Homo sapiens: one gene and its partners. The protein of the gene in region 1 purifies or fractionates together with the protein of each later gene. This does not show direct contact. Each region holds a gene or a part of one and is shown on either strand. Other genes may lie near its edges. The genes, in order: SPIN4, WDR76 and DIS3L2.

The links.
Region 2: the proteins of SPIN4 (region 1) and WDR76 purify together in Homo sapiens (co-immunoprecipitation; one large-scale study listed by IntAct). This does not show direct contact.
Region 3: the proteins of SPIN4 (region 1) and DIS3L2 purify together in Homo sapiens (co-immunoprecipitation; one large-scale study listed by IntAct). This does not show direct contact.

What each region holds. Positions count from the first base shown.
Region 1 is NC_000023.11:63,348,403-63,352,815, reverse strand, and holds the start of SPIN4 (spindlin-4), read left to right. Parts: upstream 1-1,483; 5' UTR 1,484-1,996; coding exon 1,997-2,746; 3' UTR 2,747-4,413.
Region 2 is NC_000015.10:43,836,972-43,840,619, forward strand, and holds part of WDR76 (WD repeat-containing protein 76), read left to right. Parts: intron 1-2,633; coding exon 2,634-2,757; intron 2,758-3,648. UniProt on the Homo sapiens protein: Specifically binds 5-hydroxymethylcytosine (5hmC), suggesting that it acts as a specific reader of 5hmC.
Region 3 is NC_000002.12:232,332,065-232,335,712, reverse strand, and holds part of DIS3L2 (DIS3-like exonuclease 2), read right to left. Parts: intron 1,874-3,648; coding exon 1,726-1,873; intron 1,345-1,725; coding exon 1,214-1,344; intron 1,083-1,213; coding exon 978-1,082; intron 1-977.

The DNA of each region.
Region 1 (4,413 bases):
GTAATATGGCATTAAAGAATTATCCCATCTCTGAAGTCCTTTGCCTGGGAAACATGGTGAACTGGAGGATCCTTACACATTCTGTGTGACCAGCTATTAAACAGAATGAGGACTAGGTCTCTCTGTCACTGACTTGGAAGGTAATGAAATGTTCAGGCAACCAGTATTGACACCTTGCAGCTTTTGCCCCGGTTTTGTTTCCAGGTGAATTAATTGCCTTTTTTACTCATGATTATATGACGCTTTCTCTTTTCACCAGTGAAGAGTAGAGGAATGAAAATGAGAACCCTAGACTCTTCTGGATTTTAATGTCATCTTGTAAGTGGGATATAGTGTTAAAAGCTTTACAGACATTCTCATTTAATCCTCATAGCAGCTCTGTGACTTAAGGTAAGTGAAATTATGGACACTTTCTTTTCTTGCAGGTTTTCGATATAAGCATGCAGCACTTTTATAATCAGAAAAACAGCAAATATATACACAAAAAATCCCTTCTTTCTCTCTCTACAAAATTAAGACCACAATATTGTTTCAATATTTTGCTTTTTCATTGTACTCATCTCATGTGCAGCTCTCCATGTCATTAAATCTTCTTTTAAAAAATGGTTTAGACAATAAATCCATTTATGAAGGTAAAATGTTTTTATTTATACTTATGTTATAGATCATGTAGGATAAATAGTGGACTATCAAAAGGAATATTACAAATATTTAATATTACTATTAAAAATCATGTTTTCAGAGTATTTAACAATCTTGGAAAATGTTCATGATATACATGAAAAACACAAGTTATAAAAGTATGAAATATGCTCCCAATTTTATAAAATATAAGTACAGGTTTATTAATAGGAGAGAAAACAGTATTGTTAACATTTTGGTGCAGTCTGGATGGTAAAATTAATGGTAGTTTCGTCTTTTATTTCACTGAATTTTAGAAGATCTCCACAATGTCAGTACATGACCTTTACATTCTGACAAAAAAAAAAAAAATAAAAATAATTACTAGAAATGATCAGGTAGAAAATATAAAACAGATTTTGGATTAAGATGGTGGTCTGTAAATTGTACACAGGGTTTTTATTCTCATCTTAAATATCTTAAACTGAAAGAAAATAATTTGTATGCACAAACTCTTTCTGGGTGTGCGTGTGTTTTACATTTTTTTTTTTTTTAAGTGAGGAATTCCTGGAAGACAGAAAGCAGATGGAGCCACTGTGTAGGAGGCTGGCGGGCAGCAGACCGCCAGAAAGGAGGAGGAGGGGAGTCGGCCTGTCTGGCTGGCGTTTGAGGGAAACGGTCGAGGGGCGGAGGAGGAAATGAAAGAGAGGGCGCGTGTGTCAATACAAACTGAACACGGGCACGCGCGCTGACCAGCCCGGCTGCCGCCCGCAGAGCGGAAGGCGGGATGGCTGGGGGCGGGGCCAAGGCTCAGGCGGGCTCAGAGGGGGCGGGTTCCCTGCGCCGCAAAGACCCGGTCGCCAGAGTGAAGCCAAGCCAGCTAGCGCTGCGAAGCCCAGGCCGCGCGGACTCCCCAGAGACTTGCCGCCGCCTGCGCCTTTGCCGCTGCAGCCATCCCTCTTACTCCTTGCCTTTCGTCCCCGTCGTCTCCTCTGCCGCCGTGCCGCAGCCGCACCAGCATCGACAACAGCTAAGTGGCCGATTCGGGGACTTGGGGTCGGGGTTGGGGCGGACGCAAGGCACGAACAGCACTCGCGAGCCCGCCATCTCTACGTCAGCCGCCACTGCTGCAGTAACCCTTCTAGGGCGAGAGAGGAAAGCACTGTGGAGAGGCACACGCTGTCCCAGTGCTCACGGTTAGAGTTCGAGCGTTTCTGCCAAAACCTTGGTGAGAGCCTTGCACTTGGAGAAGGGAGCACAGACCAGGTCTTTGAGATCGCAAAAAATATATATATCATATTGCATAGTGTTGACTTTTTGTCAGTTTAATCGACCAGGGCAGCAGCTTTCCCCAAGCCCTCTTAATCCCTGAGCTATGTCTCCTCCAACCGTGCCTCCGATGGGGGTAGATGGCGTGTCCGCATACCTGATGAAGAAAAGGCACACCCACAGGAAGCAACGGCGCAAGCCCACTTTCCTCACTCGTAGGAACATCGTGGGCTGCCGCATTCAACACGGCTGGAAGGAAGGCAACGAGCCAGTGGAGCAGTGGAAGGGTACTGTGCTCGAGCAGGTTTCCGTGAAGCCCACTCTTTACATCATTAAATATGATGGCAAAGATAGTGTGTATGGACTAGAACTGCACCGCGATAAGAGAGTTTTAGCGCTAGAGATCCTTCCTGAGAGAGTGCCAACTCCTCGTATCGATTCACGACTGGCAGATTCCCTGATTGGCAAGGCAGTGGAGCATGTGTTTGAAGGTGAACATGGTACCAAGGATGAATGGAAGGGTATGGTCCTGGCGCGAGCTCCTGTGATGGATACTTGGTTTTACATCACCTACGAGAAAGATCCTGTTCTCTATATGTACACGCTGCTTGATGACTACAAAGATGGTGACTTACGCATTATTCCAGATTCCAACTACTATTTCCCTACAGCAGAACAGGAGCCTGGAGAGGTGGTCGACAGTCTCGTGGGCAAGCAGGTGGAGCATGCCAAAGATGACGGGTCCAAGAGAACTGGCATTTTTATACATCAAGTGGTGGCGAAGCCATCTGTTTACTTCATTAAGTTTGATGATGATATTCACATTTATGTCTATGGTTTGGTGAAAACTCCTTAAATTCTTTGTGCTCTTTAGAGAAGTTGTGGATCTGTTAGATGTGAATTATTTTGTGTTCTCGTAGTTGTGAACGCAGAGAAGAGTTTAGGTGTCAGAAATTCAGGAAAGTGGATAAATTTTATTGTGCCAACAAATCTTACCTTGACTAGTTTCACAATTTTGCCTCAAGTGTACTTTGCTACTTTTGATATTGCCTTGTTCTGTAACTTAACAGTTAAATTGGGTGCTAATAGAAAATTAAAAAGTGTTTGCAACCATTGGAACAATGCAAAAATAGATTAAGAAAAATTAATGGTGTAAACCCACACCCCGTCCTTACCCCTTCCTTTCCTTACCTTGTTTCTTCCCAGAAAACAAGTGTTGAGGATGCGAAGTACATCCTTCCACCTATTTTCCCCATCTTCATGCAGAAAGTATGTTCTAGTAGTTTCTGTAAAAATGGCAAGCCACATGCTTTTCTCACTTGACATGTAGATGATATCTCTTCTTATCAGTAGCTTCAGTCTTTCTTGCTCTCTCTGGCTCTCTCTGGCCCTCACTCTTACTCTCTTGCACTCTTGCTCTCCCCCTCCCTCCCTTACTCTAACAGCTGAATACACAGTACTTGTTGATGTACCAAAAAGGCATTCAACCATTTCGTTATTGATCGTCTTTTATTTCCTTTTTTTATTTTTTTTCAAAATAACACTGCTGTAATACATACTGGTGCTTTTATTTATATAGGTTGGATTCCCAGAAATACTATGTAGGCATATGTTTCAGAAATATTACAAGATTACTATCCAAAATGAAAGCGCCCGTTCCAGCGTCCTCTCCAGCACTCTTTAATGCTTGAAAATATGAAAGGCTAAAAATTGCATTGTATTGCTTGTTAGTTTAATTGCCTTTTGTCTGAGTTCAAAGAGGTTTGTTGTTGTTGCTGTCCTTGTTTCTGTTTGGATTTTTCTCTGATTTGCCTGTTCTTACCCTTTGCTCATGTATCTATTGATGTTTTTCATTATAAATTTGTAGAAATTCTTACTACATAGTGCATATTAATCATTTGTAGCTCTAATGTGTTATGACGTTTTCATCTTGACTTTATTGATGATATATTTTCCTTTAAAATTTTTAAACTTTTTAGGTAGACCCTTATCTCTTTTATAGATTTTGGTTTCCTTTTTTTATCACATGGATGCCCCCACCCAAAGTCATACAAATATTCACCTACATTTTCTTCTAATAACTTTATTATTTTTAATGTTTAAATGTTTGATCCATCTGAAATTTATTTTTGTATATGGTGTAAGATGGGGATCCAGCTATAACATTTTGTTCACATTGGATACCTGATTGTGACATTTATTTAAAATGTTACCCATTTTCAAATTTCTGAGCCAATATCATGATTTAATTATAGTGGCTTCATCGTAAGTTTTAGAATCCGATAAAGCAAGTCCCACTTCATTAGTTTTTTTTTTCTTTATATAATATGTCCTAGACATTCATTTTTTCATGTGAAAAAATGAAATGCAGAATTTTAATAAAATTCTAATTATGATGGCTGACATCACAATTAAAATCCTGCATTTTTGTTTAGAGGGCTCTTTAATAATATTAAATCTTAGCACTCAAGAGTCTTCGTACATCATTGAAATCTTTTGGTCTTGTTATTGGAATATTCTTCA
Region 2 (3,648 bases), on another chromosome or scaffold:
AGAGGTCATGGTGAGCCAAGATTGCACCATTGCACTCCAGCCTGGGCAATAAGAGTGAGACTCCATCTCACAAAAAAAAAAAAAACAAAAAAAAACAACTATTTGCTGAAAGTCAAAACAGCTTATAAGTGGTAGCTTTAGGATTTGAACTCAAGGGTGTTTAAATTTTGAATTATCTCCATTGCATTTTAGCAGTGCTTACATATAAATGAAGAAACTAAAATCTTGGTATCATTAGCTCATTTGTTTAGTGCCAGTTCCTAATGAAATGTAGCTTCATTTACTTGGTTTGATTCTGTTACAGGACAATTAGCTTGAGAAAAGCTGGACCTTTAATCATGGCCAGGTATTTTCAAGTGTGAAAAGTTACTATAAGAGGAACATCATTAACACTGGAAAAACAGTAGCACTGGTCCTGTTGCCCGCTGATTAGTAGCTTTACATTTGCATTTTTTTATTAGCCAAGATTGGTGATTTCTTCCTAAATCACAAAATTCTAGCCCTTAATAGTTGTATAGGCAGTAGCAAGTTGATAGTATGGAAGTTGTGTAATGTAGCGCAGAAGTGTAGCCTTTGAGATTTAGCAAATTTGGGTTCAAGTTTTGATTCAGTCACTTACAGCTATGACAGTAACCTTGGATACTTTATATAATTTTTCTTTCTGTAAAGCTGGCATTATGCTAATCTAGAAGGATTTAAATTTTTTGAAAATTATTAAATATACATATAAAAAGGTACATATAATGTATTTGTGTAGTTGAAAAATTATACAGGTCCCATCCATGTACCTGCCATCCAGGTTAATAGAAATTACGAATACCCCTGAAGGCCCATATATACCCCTCCCTCCCGATACAACCACTATGCTGAATTTTGTGGTAATATTTCCTTGCATTTATTTATTGCTTTTTTTTTTTTTTTTGAGATGGAGTCTCGCTCTGTTGCCCAGTCTGGAGTGCAGTGGCGCGATCTCGGCTCACTGCAACCTCCACCTCCCAGGTTCATGCCATTCTCCTGCCTCAGCCTCCCGAGTAACTGGGACTATAGGCGCCCGCCACCACGCCCGGCTAATTTTTTGGATTTTTAGTAGACGGGGTTTCACCGTGTTAGCCAGGATGGTCTCAATCTCCTGACCTCGTGATCCGCCTGCCTCGGCCTCCCAAAGTGCTGGGATTACAGGCGTGAGCCACTGTGCCCAGCCTATAGTTTCATTTTTATTTATTTATTTTTTTGAGACAGAGTCTTGCTCTGTTGCCCAGGCTGGAGTACAGTGGTGTAATCTTGGCTCACTGCAGCCTCTGCCTCCCAGGTTCAAGCAATTCTCATGCCTCAGCCTTCTGAGTAGCTGGGATTACAGGTGCTCATGACCATGCTCTGCTAAATTTTGTATTTTTAGTAGATACGGGGTTTCGCCATGTTGGCAAGGCTGGTCTGGAACTCTGGACCTCAAGTGATCCACCCACCTCAGCCTCCCAAAGTGCTGGGATTACAGGTGTGAGCCACTGTGCCTGGCTATTGATTTATAGTTTTACTACCAGTGAGTGTATCCTTAAACACTATATTGTTTAGCTTTGTCTTTTTTTGGTGTTCACATACAATATGCCTTTTTTATATTCTGAGATTTTCTTATTTTGCTCATCTTTACATATTTATGCTTTTAAATTTACCCATGTTGATGCGCACAGCTTTATTTCGTTCTTTTTTTCTGCTATATGATATTCCACTGTATGAATGTACTACATTTTATTCTACTGTTGATGAACAATTGAGTTGTTATTTTTATTATGAAAAGTGCTGCTCCAAACATTCTTAAGTCTCTTAGTGCTTATGTATGGGAGTTTCTCTAGGAGTAGATTTCTAGGATTGTATGACAGCCCATATTATTCCATATACTCAGGTGTCTTTTTTGAGGATTAAATATGAGATGGAATGTTGACTACAGTTTTTAGTATATAGTATACTTTCAATCAGTAGGTTTTACTAATTCTCGAAGTAATGTGGACTATAACTGATAATTTTTTATGTGAATTTTTGGAAATAATTTCAGAGGCTTCTCTTTCCCCAACATTTTAAAATGAATTACTTTTTTAAAAATGAAAAAATAGTGCATAAAAAAATAGAGAATGTATATTATTTAAAAAGTAAACTACAGTGTATGGAAGGGAATGCAGTGAAACGTTTTAAGTTTCCTTCCTATTTTAGACCTTAGTTTTCCAGGCCTTTTCCCTAGAAGTAGTAGTTTTATGTGTATTCCTCCAAAGGTAACCTCAGCATGTACAAATGTATGTGTATATGTAACCTTTTTGTATACATGTACTGGACTTTGTTTTTGCTTTTTATAACCAAGGGTTCCTTTCAGCAGTGCATAAAGATCTATATCATTCTTTTTATGGCTGCGTATTATTCTATTAGATATGTATACCATAATTTAACAGACCTCACCTCTTTTTGATGAACATTTAGGTTTGTTTTTTCCATACTTCTTATTAAGATAATTGTGGCCATGTATATATATATCTATGCAGTTTATAAATATATCTGTGGTATATATTCCTAGAAGTTATCTCTTTAGTATTAGTAAATACATTTTATTGTTTTGTGAGTATAACATGAGTTTTTCCCCACTCCTTTAGAAAGAAGCCTAAGAGAGAAAATGGGATTGGATGTAGAAGGTCAATGCGATTACTAAAAGTTGATCCTTCGGGAGTTTCATTACCAGCAGCTCCAACACCGCCGACATTAGTAGCAGATGAAACTGTAAGGAAATGTGCAAATATAATATTTTAATGTAATAAAATACTGAAAAATTTGAAGTGTTGAAACTAGACTAAAAGTTCATTAAATTATGTTTAATTTTATATTTCATTAATACTTGAATGTTGTATGGTTTTGTTTTGTTTTTTTGAGATGGAGTCTCACTCTGTCGCCCAGACTGGAGTGCAGTGGCATGATCTTGCCTCACTGCAACCCCCTCCTCCCGTGTTCAAGCGATTCTCCTGCCTCAGCCTCCCGAATAGCTGGGATTACAGGCACATGCCACCATACCTGGCTGATTTTTTTTATTTTTGGTAGAGACGGGGTTTCACCATGCTGGCCAGGCTGGTCTTGAACTCCTGACCTGAAGTGGTCTGCCTGCCTCGGCCTCCCAAAGTGCTGGGATTACAGGTGTGAGCCACTGTGCCCGGCCCATTTGTACGCTTTAATGAGTAAGATTTCGAAGTCGTAAAGACTGTATTGGATTCTGTATTTCTGCAGGACTTACCTGCTTAGGATTGTGGGTGAGTTAATTAACCTTTCTGATTGTTTCTCCATTAAAAAAAAGTCAGCAATAATAGAACCCTCAGTAAATATGTACAATTTTATGTCAGTTTAAAAAAAAAACCTCAAAGAGCTACTGTAAAGATAAATGAAATCATATCTATAAAGTTTCTCACATATTAGGGGCTTAGTAATCAATAGAATATAGTTATTAATGTTAATAAATACGTGATAATGTGTAGTTTTAGTGAGTAGAGTTTTATTTAGCAAACATTTTCTAAATATTTTTTATTCAAGAACACCTATTTTTAATACTTTATATGTAAGTGTTTAATTGTAAATAGGAAGATAGCACTAATTAGGCTGGTGTTTTGGGAGCAAATTGCAAAT
Region 3 (3,648 bases), on another chromosome or scaffold:
CCTGGAGGGCTTCAATGCTTGGAGGCGGCCCTCAGCCCTCGGCCCTGGCCCACCCTTGCCTGGCTGGAGGGAGCTTCAGGGAGGCCCTGCCAGGCCACCTTCAGCTGAGGCAGCAGGTGAGAGTGACCAAGGGCCAGGGGTGGGGGCTGGGAAGGCCCGTGGCTCTGTGTGCTATGGGGGGCAAGTGGTGGGGGGTCCAGGGCTGACTGCACTGAGGTGGGGACAGAGAACTGTGGCGGCGGAGCGCTGCGCCCCCTGCTGGTGCCATCTGTCAGTGCAGGCAGGGCTGGGCCCACAGCAGGGTGAGCTAGGCTTGAACTTCAGGATACAGAGCCCCCAGGGTCCGCAGGGGGACTCTGTCGTTCCTCTTCTGCCCAGCTCCCGGTTATGAACACCACGTTTACTGCACACAACGGGCTGGACACTGTACTCCCAGGGCACTCTGGATGTTAGGAAATTCAAAGCCAGGCACAGAGGCAGGTGGTGACCTGCAGACCCCAGGGCCAGCTGGAGCCAAGCCCCTAAGGCAGCATTAGGACAGGCCCATGTCCCCTTGGAGAGAGAACTGTGAGTCAACAGTCACTCAGGGCAGGAGCCGAGCCAGGGACAGCTCTCTTCCTTGTCTTCAGGGGACACAGTTTCCAAAGCGGCCACGGACCATTCGCTGGCCTTTCATTCCTTCACGTTCCTATAAACACAGTCCCCAAAGCCTGCACACCCTGCCGAGCTGTACTGGCCATGGAGGGGCCTGCTCTCTGGTTCCTGGGTCCTTGGGGAAGGGGGCCAGGCCTGACCCTGGGCCTGGAGCCACCATCCCAGGTGGGAGAGCTGGGCGTCTCAGCAAGGCCCATCAGGTGGGCTTTGTGCTAGGGCTGGGGGAGCGAGGGGTGGAGTGTGACCCATCACAGCCTGTGCCCCTCCAGTGCGGGATGGCTTGGGCTGCCCTGCCCGCCCCCGGGCTCTCCCAGGGCACTCACGTTGCAGTAGATGCGCTTCTGCACGCCGTAGCGCAGCACCAGCACGTCGAAGGCTTGCTTCAGGATGCCCATCACCATGGCTTCTGACTCCAGGGGGCCACTCTCCTGCAGGGACAGTGCTGCAGCCATGGCACCTCCTGGCACTGCCCTGGGCTCCTCGAGGCCTCCTGGTGAGCAGGTGCCCAGGAGGGTCGGGAGCCAGAGGGAGGTGAGGGGCACCAGGCTGGAGGGCTCACCTTGACCAGAACAGCAAAGAAGAGACTGGTACTGAGCTCCTGCACGCGCTTGGACGCCATGCGGCGGTCGTTACAGTGGTCCGCCTGTTTCTGCAGGGTATCGGGCGCCATGTCTAGTCGCTCCCTATAGCCTGGGAAGAGGGGGTGAGGCATGAGAGTGGGAGCCTGGGGGGCTGGGAAGAGCTATGGCTGGGGGATGGGCTGCATGGCGCTGCACCCCCGCCGACAGATTAGGACCCCAAGCACCCAGCTCCCAGGGCAGCAGAAAGCGGCCCTTCGAGGTCAGCGCCCTCCTCCCGGCTGTGTCCAGGGCTGGCTGTGGGCTCCATGCAGCTTCTGCAGCACCGGCCCGTAGGGAGAGTTTCCAGGCCAGGCTCCCCTGCACTTGGGTCGCCCGACCCTTGGACCTCCGCTGTCACGGCAGAATGGTCTTGGGCCACTGAGCACCCACTGTGGGGGTGGGCAGCCCTGAGCTGGCCCAGGTCTGCCCTGACCCCGACTGCACCCCTCACCTAACGCGGCAGCCAGGAGGCGGTGCACCAGGACGTCGGCAAAGCGGCGGATGGGCGAGGTGAAGTGTGTGTACAGGGGCACATTGAGCGCGTAGTGCCGGAACTGCGCTGGGTCCTGCAGCAGCCCCGAGCAGAAGTACAGTGCCATCTGCGGGACGGGATGGGTCAGAGCCTGACAAGCCCAGAGCTGCCCAGCCAGGCCTGGAAGGCTGGCACCACCCACAGCCTCACCGTCGGCAGCGATGTGTGGACAGACCTAATGGGCTGCTGGTTGCTGAGTGACGCCAGGGAGGACTGGGGCCAGGGCCCTTGCTGCACAAGGGGCCCCAGGGGGAGGCCAGGAGGCTGGGCAGAGCCCAGGGGTACCCATGTCCTTTCCAGGAGACAAATCTGGCCTGCCTGGGCCTCCCAGATGCCCTCAAGGTGGCAGCACTGAGAATGGCCTGGACAAGCCCACCCTGCTGAGGACCAGGGAGCCAGGAACCCCCAGGATGCTGTCAGGGTAGGGGGCACGAGCTGAGCCTCCGAAGTCCAGTCCCTGCTGAGTCACTGCTGAGCACCACCAGGAGGGAAGAGTCTCTGGCCTACCCTTCCCCAGCATGGGGCCGGGGCTGCTACTCTCGCCCAGGAAGAAGGAAGAAGAAAGAAAGGTAGCGGCGGGGGGTGGGGGAGGAGGAGGAGGAGGTGGCGATGGCAGAGGTGGAGGCAGAGGAGGAGGAGGAGGCGACAGCGGAGGAGGAGGAGGAGGAGGAGGAGGAGGCGACAGCGGAGGAGGAGGAGGAGGAGGAGGAGGAGGAGGAGGAGGAGGAGGCGACAGCGGAGGAGGAGAAGGAGGAGGTGGTGGAAGGAGGAGGTGGTGGTGGTCGAGGAGGACAATGAGGAGGAGGAAGAGGAGGAGGCCGCCTGCGGTTTTGTTGGACCAGGGGCTGCAGACGCTGTCTGCTGGAGACACAAGCAGAAGCCAAGGAGCCTGTGGGTCTTTGTTCAAGGAGGCAACGTCCATCCTCCCATCTGGCCAGAGTGGGAGGAGGGAGAGAAAGCCCAGGATGCGATCCCCTGCCCTGTGCAATACGGGCCTCAGGCTCTTGGAGCTTCCTCTCCAGCCTAGGCCCACCTTTGGTCGGGGCCGTCCTCATCCCCTCTGGCACTGATCCCGCCCAGCTGAAGCCACGCTTCACCCGGGCACCTCTGTGCTCGCCAATACTCCACCCCACAGCAGTCAAGGGAGGCAGTTTCCGGCCTGCCAGCCTCGGCCCTTCTCGTCTCTGACACCTGACCCTCCCGGGGGCTGAGACACAGAGGGCTGAGTTCCAAAGGCCCTTGTGCTGGGCAGGAGGCAGGACTGGGGCAGGGGGAGATACCGAGAGTCTCTAGGGACCAGCGCATAGCCCGTCCCAGCTGGGGCCACAGCCCCTGAAGCTGTTTGTCCTGCAGTCCCCGAGCTTTCAGGGCTGGGTGTCAGGGCCAGTGCTACTGCCTGGGAGCGAGTGAACGGGTTCCTCGCAGAGGTCCAAGGTCACGCCTGTATGTCTCTCTGGCTCCCTTGCTCCCTGGCTGCTGTACACACTCACCCTCCTGTGCCCTTGGCCAGACAGACAGCCGGCTCCCGTTACTCTGTGCACACGGGCCCTGGAATCCAGGGCGCAGCTGATGGTGACCTGCTCCGCTCCCTAACTCCACTTCCCTTCCAGCCCCTGCTGGGCCCTGGGTTAAGTCGGGGGCAAGTCTCTGGGGGAGGTGGGCACAGCCTCCACTCCCAGACATGTCTGGGCTTTGTTCTCAGTGGTGGCCCAGTTCCCCAGATGACCTGGGTGAGGTTGATGAAGGGCCCTGGCCCCTCTTGGCTGGTGGAGGTGGCTCAGGGTCGGGTGGGATGGGTGGGGACCATGGCTTTCCCACAGGCCCAGCCATCCCTGGGACAGC